Homo sapiens: one gene and its partners. The protein of the gene in region 2 purifies or fractionates together with the protein of the main gene of each other region. This does not show direct contact. Each region holds a gene or a part of one and is shown on either strand. Other genes may lie near its edges.

The links.
Region 1: the proteins of SGSH (region 2) and SUMF2 purify together in Homo sapiens (co-immunoprecipitation; one study listed by IntAct). This does not show direct contact.
Region 3: the proteins of SGSH (region 2) and SLC37A3 fractionate together in Homo sapiens (co-fractionation; one large-scale study listed by BioGRID). This does not show direct contact.
Region 4: the proteins of SGSH (region 2) and NMD3 purify together in Homo sapiens (affinity purification with mass spectrometry; one large-scale study listed by BioGRID and IntAct). This does not show direct contact.

What each region holds. Positions count from the first base shown.
Region 1 is NC_000007.14:56,070,786-56,074,285, forward strand, and holds part of SUMF2 (inactive C-alpha-formylglycine-generating enzyme 2 isoform b precursor), read left to right. Parts: intron 1-2,211; coding exon 2,212-2,326; intron 2,327-3,388; coding exon 3,389-3,433; intron 3,434-3,500. UniProt on the Homo sapiens protein: Lacks formylglycine generating activity and is unable to convert newly synthesized inactive sulfatases to their active form. Inhibits the activation of sulfatases by SUMF1.
Region 2 is NC_000017.11:80,213,834-80,217,333, reverse strand, and holds part of SGSH (N-sulphoglucosamine sulphohydrolase isoform 1 precursor), read left to right. Parts: intron 1-141; coding exon 142-302; intron 303-2,195; coding exon 2,196-2,301; intron 2,302-2,568; coding exon 2,569-2,719; intron 2,720-3,005; coding exon 3,006-3,162; intron 3,163-3,448; coding exon 3,449-3,500. UniProt on the Homo sapiens protein: Catalyzes a step in lysosomal heparan sulfate degradation.
Region 3 is NC_000007.14:140,340,497-140,348,255, forward strand, and holds part of SLC37A3 (sugar phosphate exchanger 3), read right to left. Parts: intron 5,475-7,759; coding exon 5,373-5,474; intron 4,768-5,372; coding exon 4,720-4,767; intron 3,068-4,719; coding exon 2,916-3,067; intron 1-2,915. UniProt on the Homo sapiens protein: Unlike the other SLC37 members, lacks glucose-6-phosphate antiporter activity.
Region 4 is NC_000003.12:161,238,311-161,241,810, forward strand, and holds part of NMD3 (60S ribosomal export protein NMD3), read left to right. Parts: intron 1-419; coding exon 420-516; intron 517-2,735; coding exon 2,736-2,853; intron 2,854-3,500. UniProt on the Homo sapiens protein: Acts as an adapter for the XPO1/CRM1-mediated export of the 60S ribosomal subunit.

The DNA of each region.
Region 1 (3,500 bases), on a different chromosome or scaffold from region 2:
TGGTATGTCCATACAATAAGATACTACTCATCGATAAAAAGGGACAGACTACTAATGGCAACAACATGGATGAATCTCAGAAGCCTTTTGCTAAGTGAAGGAAACCTCCGCCAGACCCAGAAGACTACATACTGTATGATTCAAGTTATATGGTGTTCTGGGAAAGGCAAAACTATAGGGACAAAAAAACCTGGTCCGTGGTTGGTGAGTTGCAGGGAAATTTTTTTGGAGGTGACCGATGGAACTATTCTGTATCTTGATTATTGTAGTGACTATATGCTTTGTCAAACTCACAGAACTGCTGAGCACAGTGGCTCATGCCTGTAGTCCCAACACTTTGGGAGTCCGAGGTGTGTGGATCACTTGAGCTCAGAATTTTTAGACCAGCCTGGGCAACATAGTGAGACCCCATCTCTACAAAATTAGCTAGGCATGGTGGCATGCACCTGTAGTCACAGCTACTTGGGAGGCTGAGGAGGGAAAATTGCTTGGGCCCAGGAGGTCAAGGCTGCAGTGAGCTGTGATTATGCCACTGCACTGCAGTCTGGGTGACAGAGTGAGACCCAGTCTCAAAATATAAATAATTAAAATAAATCAGGAGGCTGAGGCACGAGAATCTCTTGAACCCAGGAGGTCGATGCTACAGTAAGCCATGATTGTGCCACTGCACTCCAGCCTGGGTGACAGAGTGAGACCTGGTGTCAAAAAAATAAATGATTGGTTGGGCGCAGTGGCTCACACCTGTAATCCCAGCACTTTGGGAGGCTGAGGCAGGCAGATCACAAGGTCAGGAGTTCAAGACCAACCTGACCAACATGGTGAAACCCCATCACTACTAAAAATACAAAAATTAGCCGGGTGTGCTGGCATACACCTGTAATCCCAGCTACTCAGGAGGCTGAGGCAAGATTATCGCTTGAACCCAGGAGGTAGAGGTTGCAGTGAGCTGAGTTCATGCCACTGCACTCAAGCCTGGGCCATAGAGTGAGACTCCGTCTAAAAATAAATAAATAAATAAATAAATAAATAATTAAATAAAAAATAATTTGGGCACAGTGGCTCATGCCTGCAATCCCAGCACTTTGGGAGGCCGAGGCGGGCAGATCATGAAGTCAGGAGTTTGAGACCAGCCTGGCCAACATGGTGAAACCCGTCTCTACTAAAAAGACAAAAATTAGTGGGCATGGTGGTGTGCACCTGTAATCCCAGCTACTGGGGAAGCTGAGGCAAGAGAATCGCTTGAACCCAGGAGGTGGAGGTTGCAGTGAGCTGAGATTGCACCACTGCACTCCAGCCTGGGCAACAGTCTTTTTGAGACAGAGCAAGACTCTGTCTCAAAAAAAAAAAAAAAAAATATTGGCCAAGTGTTGTGCCTCACACCTGTAATCCCAACACTTTGGGAGGCCACTTTGGGTGGATCACCTGAAGTTAGGAGTTCGAGACCAGCCTGGCTAACATTGCGAAACCCTATCTTTACAAAAAATACAAAAATTAGCTGGGCGTGGTGGTATACGTCTGTAATCCCAGCTACTTAAGAGACTGAGGCTAGAGAATCACTTGAACCTGGGAGGTGGAGGTTGCAGTGAGCTGAGATTGTGTCACTGCACTCCAGCCTGGGCAACAGAGTGAGACTTTGTCTCAAAAAAATAAATAAATAGGACAGGTGTGGTGGCTCACGCCTGTAATCTCAGCCCTTTGGGAGGCCGAGGCAGGTGGATCACTAGGTCAGGAGTTCGAGACCAGCCTGGCCAACATGGTGAAACCCTGTCACTACTAAAAATACAAAAATTACCTGGGCGTGGTGGCAGACGCCTGTAATCCCAGCTACTTGGGAGGCTGAGGCAGGAGAATGGCGTGAAACCGGGAGGCGGAGCTTGCAGTGAGCCGAGATCACACCATTGCACTCCAGCCTGGGCGACAGAGTGAGACTCCATCTCTAAATAAATACACAAATAAACAAACAAATAAAATAAAAAATTAATTAACCTCACAGAACTAAACACTGAAGAGAGTGAATTTTACTGTATGTGAATTCGTTGTATTCTAATTTAAAAGAAAATCACTCAGGCTTCAGGTTAATTCCTTGGCAATCATGAACACTCTGTGGTGTATAACTTACAGGACAGGGATATCTGAAGTTTCCTGGAGCAGGAGAAGATGGGGTGGGCACAGAACCTCACCAGCTGAACCAGCTGAACTATGTCTTTATAGGGATTTTGTCAGGGAGAAAAAGTATCGGACAGAAGCTGAGATGTTTGGATGGAGCTTTGTCTTTGAGGACTTTGTCTCTGATGAGCTGAGAAACAAAGCCACCCAGCCAATGAAGGTGAGAGAACCTGGTCTTGCAGCTGAGGGGATAGGAGTGGGACCTGGACAGGGAATCCTGTGGGACATGGGTTACCTGGGACACAGTGGAGAATCAGACCTGAGAGGTGGAGGCAGAGGGGAAGCAAGAGAAACTCACCATGGAGCGTCAGATCAGTACACACTCCCAGGAAGTTAACCCTGAACCCAAGTTAGCTCTTGCCTAAATGTCCAAGTCAGGATAGGATCCAAGGAACTTGAATCAAGAGATCACCTTGGTGGGCCGAGCGTGGTGTCTCATGCCTATAATCTCAGCACTTTGAGAGGCTGAGGTGAGTGGATCACCTGAGGTCAGGAGTTCAAGACCAACATGGCGAAACCCCGTCTATACTAAAAATACAAAAATTAGACAGGCATGGTGGCACGCTCCTGTAATCTGAGCTACTCAGGAGGCTGAGGCATGAGAATCGCTTGAACCTGGAAGGCAGAGGTTGCAGTGAGCCGAGATGGCGCCACTGCACTCCAGCCTGGGTGACAGAGTGAGACTGTGTCTCAAAAGAAAAAAAAAAAGAGAGATCACCTTGGCAAGCCAACCTCTAATAAGGGTGGTAAGATGGGCTCTATAAAGATTCCAGTCTCAGCTGGGCGCAGCAGCTCACGCCTGTAACCCCAGCACTTTGGGAGGCCGAGGTGGGACAATTGCTTGAGCCCAAGAATTCAAGACCAGCCTGGGCAACATAGATCCCATATCTACAAAAAAAAGAAAAAAAAGAAAATTAGCTGGGCATGGTCATGCACACCTGTAGTCCCAGCTACTCAGGAGGTTGAGGTGGGAGGATTACCTGAGTCCAGGAGGTTGAGACTGCAGTGAGCTCTGATGGTGCCACTGCACTCTAGCCTGAGTGACAGAGCAAGATCTTGTCTCAAAAAAAAAAAAAAAAAAAAAAAAAAAAAATCAGCCACAACCTCACTTAGACCACCTGAGTCTCAGCCTGACGTCTCTGTTCTGCGTCCTGTGGCTCAGTCGGGGAGGTGCCTTTGCTGGGCCGGAGCATCTTGCAGTCGGTCTCCTTCTTTTTCGCAGTCTGTACTCTGGTGGCTTCCAGTGGAAAAGGCATTTTGGAGGCAGGTAAGGGCTGATTCCGCTACCTCATTTTCTACCCCTGCTTGACTCTTATTCTCCAGGCCCAGCCTCC
Region 2 (3,500 bases):
GCTGAGTGTTCACACTGAGCCAGTACCATGCCCACCTGGGTGTCTCGCCTTCTGGCATCACAGTCCCAGCCTCCCTCACTCCCAGTGCTGTTTCTCGTGACCGCAGCCGACCGTGCACTCTCTGTCTCCCACCTCACGCAGCGGATGACGGAGGCTTTGAGAGTGGCGCGTACAACAACAGCGCCATCGCCACCCCGCACCTGGACGCCTTGGCCCGCCGCAGCCTCCTCTTTCGCAATGCCTTCACCTCGGTCAGCAGCTGCTCTCCCAGCCGCGCCAGCCTCCTCACTGGCCTGCCCCAGGTGAGGTGCAAGGGGCGGGAGGAGGGGGTGGGCAGGGAGTAGACAGGCTGCGTCCGGGGCCCAGGCCTCTGCCACGTCTCCCATCCCTGGGATCCCGGGGGGTGTTGCCCACTTTCCCTCCCACCTCCAGGAGGAGGCACAGCCTATGGCTGTGAGTGCAGACTAGGGGCTCCGACTCACCCGCCAGCCCTGGCTGCACTGCTGTGTGTGGCCTTGAGCAAGTCACCTACCTCCTTGTGCCTCAGTTTCCTCATCTGTAAGATGGTGGGTGTAATGAGATGCCACTCTAGTTATGGAGATTGGCGGGGCTAATGCTTTGTATGTAAACACTTAGTGCGAGGCCTGGTGGGCTCACTCAGCGTGAACCGCCATGGCCACAGTGTCCCAGGAACGCCATGGTGCAGGGAGCGGACACCGTTAAGGCACACATGCTCCTATTTTACTGTGGTAAAATGCACAAACATCAACATTCCCATCTTAGCCATTTTTCAGCGCACAGTTCCGGGGCATTAAGTGCATTCACAGTGTTATGCAGCCATCACCACCATCCATCTCCAGAACTTTTCCATCTACCCAAACAGAAGCTCTGTCCCATGAAACACCAGCTCCACATTCTCCCTCCCCATCCCCTGTCTCTATGAATCTGACTGCTCCAGGGGCCACATAAGAGTGGAATCACACAGGACTAGTCCTTTTTTTTTTTGAGTTGGAGTCTCACTCTGTCACCCAGGCTGGAGTGCTGTGGTGCGATCGTGGCTCACTGCAGCCTCTGCCTCCCCGGTTCCAGCGAGTCTCCTGCCTCAGCCTCCCGAGTAGCTGGGATTACAGGTGCGCGCCACCACGCCTGTCTAATTTTTGTATTTTTAGTAGAGATGGGGTTTCATCATGTTGGTCAGGCTGGTTTCGAACTCCTGGCCTCAAGTGATCTGCCCGCCTCGACCTCCCAAAGTGCTGGGATTACAGGCGTGAGCCACCGAGCCCGGCCCCCCTTTTGTGTCCTTACTTCACTCAGCACAATGTCCTCAGGGTTAACCATATGCTGTAGCACGAGTCAGAACTTCCCTCCTCTTCAGGGCTGACTCATATTCCAGTGGATGGATGGGCCCCGTATTTTGCTTCTCCATATTCATCCGTCAGTGGGCACTTGGGTTGCTGCTACCCTTTGGCTGTTGTGAATAAAGCTGCTATGAACATGGGTGTTTAAGGACACTTGTTCTTTTAGTCTCACTCTGTTGCCCAGGCTGGAGTGCAGTGGTGTGATCTCGGCTCACTGCAACCTCCACCTCCCAGATTCAAGCCATTCTCCTACCTCGGCCTCCCGAGTAGCTGGGACTACAGGCGCCCGCCACCACGCCCAGCTAATTTTTGTATTTTTAGTAGAGACGAGGTTTCACCATGTTGGCCAGGCTGGTCTCCATCTCCTGACCTCGTGATCCACCTGCGTTGGCCTCCCAAAGTGCCGGGATTACAGGCGTGAGCCACCACGCCCGGCCGGCAGTCTGAGTTTTTAAAATGTACACATCTTTTACAATATAAAATAACTAGGTAATAAAACAAGGCCTGACCCTGTCTTTTTCACTCTGTAACGTGTGATCATAACAGAAGAGTTCAAAAGTACGGATACGCAAAAAGAACATCAAGGCCACCCTCGTGTCGGTGCACGCCCTGCAGGTCCCCTTCTTTCTGGCGAAGTCCTCCTTTCACGGGAGGGACCCATGGGCCTATCGGGCAGGGAGTGGGAGGTACAGCCAGTGTCTCTGGGTGCTGGCCACTCGAAGTCTAAATCAGGGCCCCGAGAAGGCCCCTGGGGATGGGAGGGCCGTGGGAGAACAGGTGCGGCAGGCGGGCTCTGGCTGTCCGGGGGCCCCGGACCTCATGCGCCTTTGCTGGCAGCATCAGAATGGGATGTACGGGCTGCACCAGGACGTGCACCACTTCAACTCCTTCGACAAGGTGCGGAGCCTGCCGCTGCTGCTCAGCCAAGCTGGTGTGCGCACAGGTGAGGACCCCGTGCCGAGGACAGGGCGTGGGGTGAGGCACAGAGGCCAGGCCAGAGCCCAGGAGGTTCGGCACCTTGTACCAAGGCACGCTCAGCCCCCGTGGCCTGCCCTTAGCTCTTGTCCCAAAGGATCTGGGCCTGGGTCTCCTGGCTGGGCTGTGTGTCCACGAGAACCCACAGTGCGCTTAGGGCCGAGAGGGGCAGAGAAGGGAGCAGAAAGGGTTGGGAGGCTGAAGGGACTCTGGCCAGGCCTCTCTTCCCGCCCAGGCATCATCGGGAAGAAGCACGTGGGGCCGGAGACCGTGTACCCGTTTGACTTTGCGTACACGGAGGAGAATGGCTCCGTCCTCCAGGTGGGGCGGAACATCACTAGAATTAAGCTGCTCGTCCGGAAATTCCTGCAGACTCAGGATGACCGGTATGAGTCGGGGCCCCTGCCCCTTCCCCCTGGCGGCCGGTACCAGAGCACAGCCCGGAGTCTTCCGGCGGGATGCATGGGCCCCCACGTGGCTCGAATGGGGGCAGGGGAGAAGGTTCCAGGTACTCGAGTTAGCCTGGTCAGAGGGAGAAGGGACGTGGGGAAACTGAGGCAGTGAGGGTCACAGGTTGACTTCCAGATACAGAGGAGGAGGCAGAGCCGAGGGGCTTCCTGTGCCACGTGGCAGTGGCCCCGCAGCCTTGGCAATGAGCCTCCTCCCGTGCAGGCCTTTCTTCCTCTACGTCGCCTTCCACGACCCCCACCGCTGTGGGCACTCCCAGCCCCAGTACGGAACCTTCTGTGAGAAGTTTGGCAACGGAGAGAGCGGCATGGGTCGTATCCCAGACTGGACCCCCCAGGCCTACGACCCACTGGACGTGCTGGTAGGACGGCCCCTCCTGTGTTTCAGGACGCCCGTCAGCCCTGGGTCGGGGACCCTGGCCTCCTACGAGCTTGCAGCCCTGGCCCTAGATGATGAAGAAAGAGGCTCTGACCAAATCGGATTCAGGTTCCCAACCTCGGGGCCACAGAGAGAACCGTAGAGAGACGGGGTGGTCCGGAGTGAGGCTGTTCTGGGCTAACCCATTTGCAGGAGGCCCCGGGGAGAAGGCTGGACACCGCTCCCCCGGTCTGTCTGTTCTAAGCCTGGCTCCCCACCGCCTGCCCCAGGTGCCTTACTTCGTCCCCAACACCCCGGCAGCCCGAGCCGACCTGGCCGCTC
Region 3 (7,759 bases), on a different chromosome or scaffold from region 2:
AAAAAAATTAATGCAGAACGACTATGTGATTTATATTAGATCACATCATGTGTAGCAAAAAAGCAGAGGTCTCATCATCCACTACAGGAAGCATGGGGGGCTCCAAACTGACTGCAACTTTGTCTTTTTTTTTTTTTTTAGACAGGGTCTTGTCCAGGCAAGTGGCTCATGCCTGTAATCCTAGCACTTTGGGAGGCTGAGGCAGGAGGATCACTTGAGCCCAGGAGTTTGAGACCAGTCTGGGCAATGTGGTGAAACCCTGTCTCTACAAAAAAAATACAAAAATTAGCTGGGCATGGTGGTGGGTACCTGCAGTCCAAGCTACTTGGGAGGCTGCAGTGGGAAAATTGCTTGAGTCCCAGAAGGCAGAGGTTGCAGTGAGCCAAGATCCTGCCACTGCACTCCAGCCTGGGCATAAGAGCCAGATGCTGTCTCAAAAAAAAAAAATAGAGAGAGAGAGCCAGGGTCTGGCTCTGTCACCCAGGCTGGACTGGAGTGGTGTGATCATGGCTCACTGCAGCCTTGACTTCCCAGGCTCAAGCGATCCTCCTGTCTCAGCCTCCTAAGTAGTTGGGACAGGCACATACCACCATGCTCAGCTAACTTTTTATTTTTTGTAGAGATGAGGGTCTCACTATGTTGCTTGGGCTGGTCTTGAACTCTTGGCCTCAAGTAATTCTCCTGCCTTGGCCTCCCGAAGTGCTGGGATTACTGGCATGAGCCACCACACCTAGCCTCATGTACAAGTTTTAATGTGGACATTTGTTCTCATTTCTCTTGGGCAGATACTGCAATTTAATCTTACTGAACCCCTAGTATGTGTCAACAAAAGCACTAAGCATTGGGAATACAAAGACGAAGGAAACAAGCAGAGCACCTGTCACGGTGCATCACCTTTACACCGTGACAGGTGCCTACTACAGAACCGCATCAACTGCTATGGCAACCTGAAGAAGAAACAATTCTTTACTTGGGAAGTCAGGGAAAGACGGGGTAACAAAGTTATTCAGGGTAAATTAGTACACTGGCTAAGGACAGAGCTGATAGAGGTTAACGCTAAGTCACAGAGTTTGGGATTTCACCCCTTAGGCAATGGGAAATCATTCAAAACTCAACATGGAAGAGGAATGAGTAAAGCTAACAGTGATTTACTCCAGACGTGCTTCCCCAACCATGAAGGTCAGTCTAGGACCCAAGTTCACAGTGAGGGATCTGGATACTGGCAGGTGAGGCAATCTGAATAAAAGCAAATTCTCTGAAATACTCATTATAATGCACCCATTTAGTTAGTGAAGAAAACATTCGTAAGGAAGGATAACTTAAAATAATATAATGTCAGAAAAGGATGCCCAATGCAGCCACTCTCTACCCCATAGGTGAAGACGTCTGAACTGATGGCTGGGAGCATTTTTCGATTCCCGCTCCAGGGCATGATCAGGTAAGCGTATTTTTCAAGGCTTTGCTAAGGTTTTTGTTTCTTTGGGGTTTTTTGCCCTTTAGTCTTATAATCAAATATGCCAAGCATATCAGTCATTCATTCCACAAGTAATGTCTACTGTGTGCCAGGCACTGTTCTAGGTACTAAGGTGACAGAAGAACATACAACAAAATGCTGCGCTCAGGAAGCTTATGTTACAGTGGGAGAGACAGACATTAACAAGTGCATATAGACTATTAAAATACGGCTAGGTAGTCAAAGTATTAACATGGCTTACTTTACCTCAATACTTATCTCTCATTAACCACTAGCAATCAGACATCAGCAATTCACCCCCATCAAGCAAGTAACAATAATCTTCAAGGTTATTAATGACCTCCTAGATGTCAAAACTAAGAGCCTAAAAGACAAATCCTTCAGTTCTCTTTCTCCTGACCTCTCTACATCCATGACCTTACTAACGCCTTCTCAAACGCAGTTCCCTTGACTACAGGTTACTCTGCTGCCTTCCTCTTTCTTTGACCACTGGGCATTCCCTGAGACTCGGCCAACATTCTCTTTCCCTATTAAATGTTTCATTCACTTCCACAGGTTCAACTATTTTTATCCATACAGATGACTCTCAGATCCATCTTTCTACAAAATTAGTACTCTACAATCTGTAGTGGTATATCCTAGAAGAGGCATGACTCATGACTCTGCCAGAAAAGAAATATCTGTCCCAGAGAAAGTTGAATTTATGCAAAAAAAAAAAAGGTCAATGTAAATAATTCTAAGTATAGTAGGCCAATCTTAGTGTAGGGATCTCAAACATCTGAGTGTGGAAGAATCACCAAGAAGCCTTGTTGAAAATACAGATCTGTAGGTTCGAACTCAGCAAGTCTGTAGTATGCTTGGTGTTCTGTACTTTAATGAGTGTCCCAGATGATTCTGATACCAGACACTTATGGGCCACTCTTTGAGATACAGTCAGAGATTTTTGGATACACAGGAAGCAGAGCGAGTGATTCAGAAGCAGCTGCAGAGTCCATGGCCATGTCTGGCGGGGCCCAGGAAGGAACGTGTATGCAGTAGAGTGTCTGGGAGAGGGAGACGGGAGACAGCAATGGTGGGGTCCACATGCCAGGTGGGGATAACAAGAAGCACCCCCCACCACGGAATACCAAGTTCAGCCTGGAAAGAAAGAAGGGGATGGTGGGCTGGGGCAGAAGGATCTGTCTGTCTTACGAGGTCTTAGCTTATTTGCAGACAGGAAGAATCTAGAAGTATAAGTAGAAAAAAGGAACTAAAAACAATGGAGAGTCCTTCTACATTAGGACGCATCAGCTGGTCCTGAGGGGAGACGGAAGTCCTTGGGCTCTGGGAACAGCGTTCTACAGCACAAGAGTGCCACCTACTGAGGCCCAGAGGGCAGGTTCACATTCAGCCGCCTTTGAGGGAAGACACTAGAATCCCAGCCCCTCTCCTGTTCTCTCACCTGGCCCACTGCAGCTCCAATGCTCCCCGAACCATCCACAATTCCTGTGACAGTGGCCAAAGCTTCACTGCTCCTTTGGATGAGCTCCTGGCGACCCAAGTCCGCAGAAATAGCAGAACTAATCATATTAGAAGGTCCACCAATAAAAAATCCTGAAGTCATAAACAGGTTCTTATTAAAACACAATTCACAACCACTAGCAATCTACTGCATAAGGCAAAATAATATCCGAATAGTTTTCTTAATATGTTGGAGAGAAGTGGAAAAAAAAGGAAACCCCCAGATAGTATCATTTTCAAACTATTAGTAGTTAACATCCACGTTCCTGAAATCCCTTCTCGAATTATGTGACACTCTAGTATATTTTGTAGAACCCAAAGATACAAAAATAGTGAAACACATAGCCCTTCTAATCCTGTGAAGTTTACATTCATTAATAACTAATTGCACTAGCTTGTCAAATAAATTCTATTACGGTAGTTGCATCATATGATCATTCCACTACACAAATTCAACCAGGAATATTGAAAAAAAAGAGCAAAGAGGAAAAAGCCACTGCAATGGAGCAGGTGACTCTATCTGCCACTGCTCTCAGTGAGGCTGCCCATGAATCAGGCATGCGATGGCCCAGGTGAATCTGGTCCCACTGCTGGAATCAGTTCCATGTACCCCAAGTAGAATGAGCAGCTCACTCTCCCAAGCATGATCTAAAGTTTAAAATAAGTAACTTTTCTGGCCGGGCGCAGTGGCTTATGCCTGTAATCTCAGCACTTTGAGAGGCTGAGGTGGGCAGATCACCTGAAGTCAGGAGTTCGAGACCAGCCTGGGCAACATGGTGAAACGCTGTCTCTACTAAAAATACAAAAATTAGCTGGGCATGGTAGCAGGCGCCTGTAATCCCAACTACTTGGGAAGCTGAGGCAGAAGAATCACTTGAACCCAGGAGGTGGAGGTTGCAGTTAGCTGAGATCGCACCACTGCACTCCCATCTGGGTGACAAGAGCGAGACTCCTTCTCAAAAATAAAAATAAAATTAGAAAGTTTAAAATAAGTAATTTTTCTGGCTGGGGATGGTGGCTCACGCCTGTAATCCCAGCATTTTGGGAGGCCAAGGCAGGTGGATCACCTGAGGTCAGGAGTTTGAGACCAGCCTGGGCAACATGGTGAAACCATGTCTCTACTAAAAATACAAAAATTAGCTGGGCGTGGTGGTGCACGCCTATATTACCAGCTACTCAGGAGGCTGAGGCAGGAGAATCACTTGAACCCAAGAGGTGTAGGTTGCAGTGAGCTGAGACTGTGCCACTACACTCCAGCCTGGGCAACAGAGCAAGATTCTGTCTCAATAAATAAATAATAAATAAAGTAAGTAATTTTTCTATAACATAGTCCCTAAATGCACCCAACTATTTTATCTAGTGCTCAAGTGACAAAATGCTGACCAATTCCAACACAGGAGGAGACACGAGCTATTGTGGATTTTTTTGAAAGCTGGTGAATTGGTCTCCCATGTGGCATTTTTCTAAGTCACTTTTAGAGGTAAGAGCAGAAGCTGGGGCAGCAATCAAAAATCGTAGAAAATCTCTGTCAATAGGGACCGCTTCTGTCACAATAGGACTGAGGAGGTCATGTAAGAAACAGCAGAGAAAAAGAATCTGGAAAAGGAGGCGTTTTTCCTTTTAAAATTTGAATTCTCTGTAATTAAGGTTTCGGTACTACTCAAATTGAGGGAGAAAACAGTTTCCCTTTTCCTCTGAATTTACAGAGCAACAGAAGCATGGTGGAGCAGAGCCATGTGCCGTACCTGTAACAGTCATCAGAAGGGCATTGATGGACTTATCATTTGGAGAACCTGTGAGGGAAGACACAGACAAACCATGGTGGCTTGAAAAGCAGACTCCACGTGCCTCTGCCAACCGTACGCGAAGATCTGAATCTCCGTGACCTCACAAATCACTCCCAGAGACAACAAAGAGACACAACTCTCTCTGCCTCTTTCAACTCTGATTTGTAACGTCTGCCTCTTGCTAATGCTCAAGCTAACAAGACTTCTAAAAGCTAAAGAAAAGCTCTACTCCTGTCTCAGCAGCATCTTAAGGGAATATACCAAACCTACTAATTACCATCTTTCCGCTTTTGAAACCTGTTCCCTTTTTATTGTTTTATTGGCTATAATGCTGTGCCTCTGGAGCCTCCCCCAAACAAAGCATATACACTCCCAAGCAAGCTTTTAAGCAAATTAACAAAGCAAAAGAGATGCCAGTTTCCTCCCAAGACAAATAAAACTATGTGATGACAGGTTTCCCAGGCATTCACAGGACAATGCAAAGGTGGCATATCGGGCCTTGAAGCTGGTCTCCAGGCTCTCCCCAGCACTGGTCACTGACTCCAAACAAATGCCTTATTCCAACCAGATTAGGGGAGCAAAGGAATTAGTAATTGCAAAAGAATACTCACGACTATACCCGATGAGGGACCCAACTGCCAGAAGCAGACTCAGGGCAAGAACCGGCGCTCTCTTCTGTAGTACATCAGAGATGAAGCCTTGCAAAGTTCCACCTTCAAGCAGAGTGTCGAGCAATCAAAATCACTTCTAATTTAGCTCGCTCACCTGAGGCGTGCTCCCCATTTGCCCTCTAGTCTCACTAGCAGCAGCCTGACACTAGTCTATCAAAAAATATGGCTGGGCCGGGCTCGGTGGCTCACACCTGTAATCCCAGCTCTTTGGGAGGCTGAGGCAGGTGGATCACAAGGTCAGGAGATGGAGACCATCCTGGCTAACACAGTGAAACCCTGTCTCTACTAAAAATACAAAAAAATTAGCCGGGCGTGGTGGCGGGCACCTGTAGTCCCAGCTACTCAGGAGGCTGAGGCAGGAGAATGGTGTGAACCTGGGAGGCGGAGCTTGCAGTGAGCCGAGATTGCGCCACTGCACTCCAGCCTGGGTGACAGAGCGAGACTCTGTCTCAAAAAAAAATAGGTCTGACTCCCTGAAAAGGGGTCCTCCATAACTTCCTTTTAGGAATAAACTGTCTGTTAAATCACCATGATGACCAGTGGGGACAGGAGACCACAAATCAGACAGCAAAACATGAAAAAAGGAAAAACTGTCAAAGCCATCGGCTATCCCTTACAAAAACAAGTTGTGAATGCTATTTTTGATTTTTCTTTTTAATTTGAAAGATAATGAATTAAGAACTATGCCTTGCTGGGCATGGTGGCTCATGCCTATAATCCCAGCACTTTGGGAGACCAAGGCTGGGGGACTGCTTGAGGCCAGGGGTTCAAAACCAGCCTGGGCAACACAGTGCCCTTATCTCTATAAAAGATAAATTAGCCGGGCATGGTAGCACGTGCCTATATTCCCAGCTACTTGGGAGGCTGAGGTAGGAGGATGGCTTGAGCCCAGGAGGTTGAGGCTGTGGTGAACCGTATCGTGCTGCTTGAACCCAGGAGGCTGAGGCTACAGTGAGCTGTATTGTGCCACTGCACTCTAGCCTGGGCAACAGAGCAAGACCGTGTCTCAAAAACCAAAAAAACTGTGCCTTACAGTATATTGAGGCCAGTAGGTGGGCACAGTGGCTCACGCCTGTAATCCCAGCACTCTGGGAGGCCGAGGTGGGCAAATTGCCTGAGCTCAGGAGTTTGAGACCAGCCTGGGCAATACAGTGAAATGCCATCTCTACAAAAAATACAAAAAAATTAGCTGGGTGTGGTGGTGCATGACTGTAGCCCCAGGTACTTAGGGAGGATCGCTTGAGCCCAGGAGGTTGTGGCTCCAGTGAGCCAAGATCGTGCCACTCCAGCGTGGGCGACAGAGCAGTACCCCCATCTCCAAAAAAAAAAAAAAAGAAAAAAAAAAGTGGCTAGTAAATATTCACTAAAATAAAATTTAGCAGTTATGGTTTGCTAATAGGACACAATCTTTAAAAAGCAGGGATATGAATCTTTCAAGCAACAATGTCACATACAGCACCATTCTGAGTTGTAGGGGCTATTGGACATCTGGTGTGTCCTTATCAGATAGCAGGCAGCTGGACAATTTCAACTTCAGAGGATACAGAATATGGTGAGGTCTAACGGTGGCAACCTCACCTTTGGCTCTGGATTTAAGAATACGGGCAGCCAAGTTCAAATACAGTAATAGCAGATTGCCTAGCACAGACTGTGTGCTTTCACAAGCTCACGGCAGTTGAGTCTCACCACAATTCTAAATGTTAACATTATTGAAGGTTATTAAGATCTGGCACAGCCATGTAAGTAATACCCACTAAAATACATTCTGCTCCTCTGCCTTACTTCCTTGTTCATACTTATTACCTCCTTGTTGATACTTCTAGCTACAGCAAAAAAAAAAAAAACCACTATTAAAATCTTTGTTTATAATGAAACAACTGTAAAACATTCACAAAAATTAATCCCTGCTGTTACGTCTACCTCTATGATCTGACGACCTACACACTAAGGTGTATTTCCCCTTTATCCTCAGCAGATATGTTCCATGACCCCCGTGGATACCTGAAACCACAGACAGTACCAAACTCTATACATACTATGTTTTTTTCTATACATACATACCCACGATCAAGTTTAATTTATAAGTTGGGCACAGAAATTAACAATAACGACAAAATAGAAAATAATAACAATATACTGTAACATAAGTTATATGAATGGTCTCTCTGAAAATATCTTATTGTACGGTATTAAGAGTAACTGAAACTTCGAAAAGTGAAACCACAGATAAGTGGGGGACTGGTGTATTCTTCCTTATTAGGCTGGGGAAGGTGGGGAAGGTGGGAGGTAGATACAATGAACACGTTCATATTCTAACTTGGATCTCT
Region 4 (3,500 bases), on a different chromosome or scaffold from region 2:
CAATCAGGAAGCATATATTGGGTTAACCACCCACTCACAGAGGTGGTAGGACTTGTGCTCCAAAGATCGGGAAATTTTCATAGCTGGAGTTTATATTGAAAGGTACTATTAGTGTGAACAAAGATTTGCAGTGGGCGTTAGTATGGCTTTTAATAATGCTATATAGAAAGTAGATTGGTCTGAGCCAACAGCATGTTCTAGAGGTTTGGTGGAAAAGGTTCAAAATAGGTAGGGCTTAGTTAGAATGGTGAAGGTTTTGACATGCAAGTGCAGGACAGTAGGTTTTACCAGAGGAGGCATCATGAAGCCATTTTAGACCTTGGACAATGATGGTTTGATTTAATGAAAATTGATATTCCTGAGTCCATACAGGTTAATGATCTTTGTCTTTATATTACTACTAACTTTTTTCTTAATAGATACAAAGCATCACAAAGACTGATCTCTCAAGATATCCATAGTAACACATACAATTACAAAAGCACTTTTTCTGTGGAAATTGTTCCAATATGCAAGGTACTTTTCTTTTTCATTTAATCCATATCTGTAAAAGAGTACAAGTAATTAATTGGCTTATATGTAATTTGTAGCTCCTGGTTTTCCTCTAGGGTTGGTTAAAAATTTAGAATAAGTTCCTTAAGTGACTTCTAACACATTCAGCCATGTTAAAAGATATATATTTTTAAAAAAGTCATGCTTATAATTATGAATTGACATGCCTTTTATTTTGGTGTATTAAAATGAAAAGACCTGGTTATAGTTGATAAAAGTCCGTATTCTTTGAAATTTGTGATCCTATGAGCCTGTATCATATAGTTCAGTGAAATTGAATAAAAGAAATGACATTAAAATCAATATTAGTGAGCCACTTTGTGGAATATGTACAAACAAAATTTTGGCAAGAAATGAAAGAATATTGTGATAATGTGAAAATGAGATCATAGAATCATTTTTATGATTTTAAAACATAAGCTGAATAAAACATTTAAAATGTAGATTATTTCATTTAATTGTACTAAGATAAAACTCTGCTTCAGAAAAATATGAATTAAAATTCAATAAATAGTTATTGAGTATCTATAGTATAGAAGGCTGTGTACTGAGGATTGTATAACTACAGGTCTCTGCCATGTAAGAATTTATATGTCAGTATTAAATCACTAAGAATGATAACTGCCATTATTGTGACCATTCTACATAAAGTTAATCTAGATACTTTAGTGTCTTTCACCTCATTCTCATCTCATAATAACTGAGGTAAGCCATATCATTTTGACGATGAGGAAATTGAAGTTTGAGGAGGTTAGATAACTTGCCCAAAGTTACATGATCACAAAATGATGAAGCTAGGATTTGCACCCAGGTCTGTGTCTCCAAAGCTTTAAAACTGCTATTGCTATTTTATAGTATGTACTAGGGATGAAATGATAGCTTAAAATAGGGTCAGCAAACTTTCTCTGTAAAGAGACAGATGGTAAATTTTTTAACTTTCAGGTCGTATAATCTCTTTTGCAGCTACTCAGCTTTGCTGTTGTACAAAAGTAGCATGGGTAATATGTAAAGGAATGTCAGGGCCGTGTTCTGGTAAAACTTTATTTACAAAAACAGATGGTGGGTCAGATTTGTCCTGAGGGTGGCATTTTGCCAACCTCTGGTTTAAAACAGTAAATGTTTCCCTGGTACAAATCTTGAGAAATATGAATTTAGGTGTGAGGGCATATTTAGGCCTTGTGTAACTGAGTTTTACACATGTAAAAATTAACATATGTATTAAACTATGTAAAAAAGTATATTTGTTTATCTTTGGAAACTCATGTATTAAAAACCAAGGACTGAACTAAGAGCTGTTATGATTGTGAATAGATACACCTTAAAATATAACTCAGATCTTTTTTGTATTTTAATTCAGTTTAAAAACAGATAATTACGTTGCTGCTTCATGTCTCCCAATATAAATGTAGACATGTGACTTTTTTGGGCTTAAATCTTTGATTGTATATTGGCACATGTAGCCATGTAAGAGAAATGTGTTCCTTTGAAGTTTATTTTTTAATGGAGATTGAAAGAAGTCACAGGTGGATTTATAGAATCACTCTCCTGCTAATGTTTATAATACTCTGTTTAGAATGTACACTGTATTAACATATAGAGTGATAAGAGGCATTCACACTGCAATAAAATGGAAATAATAATAGCTTGGTGATTTGGGCCCTGGATTTTTTTTTTTTTTTTGAGAGACAGTTTTGCTCTGTCACCTAGGCTAGAGTGCAGTGGCACCACCTTAACTCACTGAAGCCTCGACCTCCTGGGCCCAGGCTGTCATTCCACCTCAGCCTCCCAAGTAGCTAGGCCCACAGGCATGCACCACCACGTTTGGCTAATTAAAATATATATATATATGTATATGGAGACAGGGTCTCCATATGTTGTCCAGGTTAGACTTGAACTCCTGGGCTCAAGGGATTCTCCCACCTTGTCCTCCCAGATTGCTGGAATTACAGGAGTGAGCCAGCGTGCTCAGCCAGGATTTTTTTTTTTTTAAAGCATTTTTATTAAGACAAGATGCCTGTCATACTTAAGGTCTGATTCTTTTCTTTAGTCTCTTTGTTGATTGATAGAATTGAAAATAACGTTTTGGTTGGTCAAATGCAATTGGATTGGGTGTTTATTGATGAGTGTTTATTGGACTGTTATTTAGGATATGCCTCATTCTAAATGTTAGTTCTTATGCCTAGGATAATGTTGTCTGTCTGTCTCCAAAACTGGCACAAAGCCTGGGAAATATGAACCAGATTTGTGTGTGTATTCGAGTAACCAGTGCCATTCACCTCATTGATCCAAACACCCTACAAGGTAAATTCTGGAAATGATTTGCCTTGACAATTTTGTTTTGTATGACAAACAATAATAATTTGTGTTGTTAATTTTTCAAGCATTCTTGCTAATATTGTTTTGAAAGGTTAGTTAAAATTTGTGCTATTGTTTAATACAAAACATTGTGGAATTTGCAAGCTTTGATTAGTTACTTTTGTATTTTTTATTTAAAGAAACAATTCTGTTAATTTTTACATATTTACTGGTTTATTCCATTAATTTTTACTGAAATTGACTTTTTTTTTTTTTTTTTTGAGATGGAGTCTGGCTCTATTGCCCAGGCTGGTGTGCAGTGGCGCAATCTCAGCTCACTGCAACCTCCGCCTCCCAGGTTCAAGCTATTCTCCTGCTGCAGCTTCCCAAGTAGCTGGGATTACAGGTGCCTGCCACCATGCCCAGCTAATTTTTGTATTTTTAGTAGAGACGGGGTTTCACTGTGTTGGCCAGGCTGGTCTTGAACTCCTGACCTCGTGATCTGCCCGCCTCGGCCTCCCAAGGTGCTGGGATTACAAGCGTGAGCCACCATGTCCAGCCTGAAATTGACTTATTTACCTCATTTAATTTTTGTGACTATTTACTTAAGTCCATTGCCAAAATTTGGTGTCTAGCAGTTATTTTAAATTTTG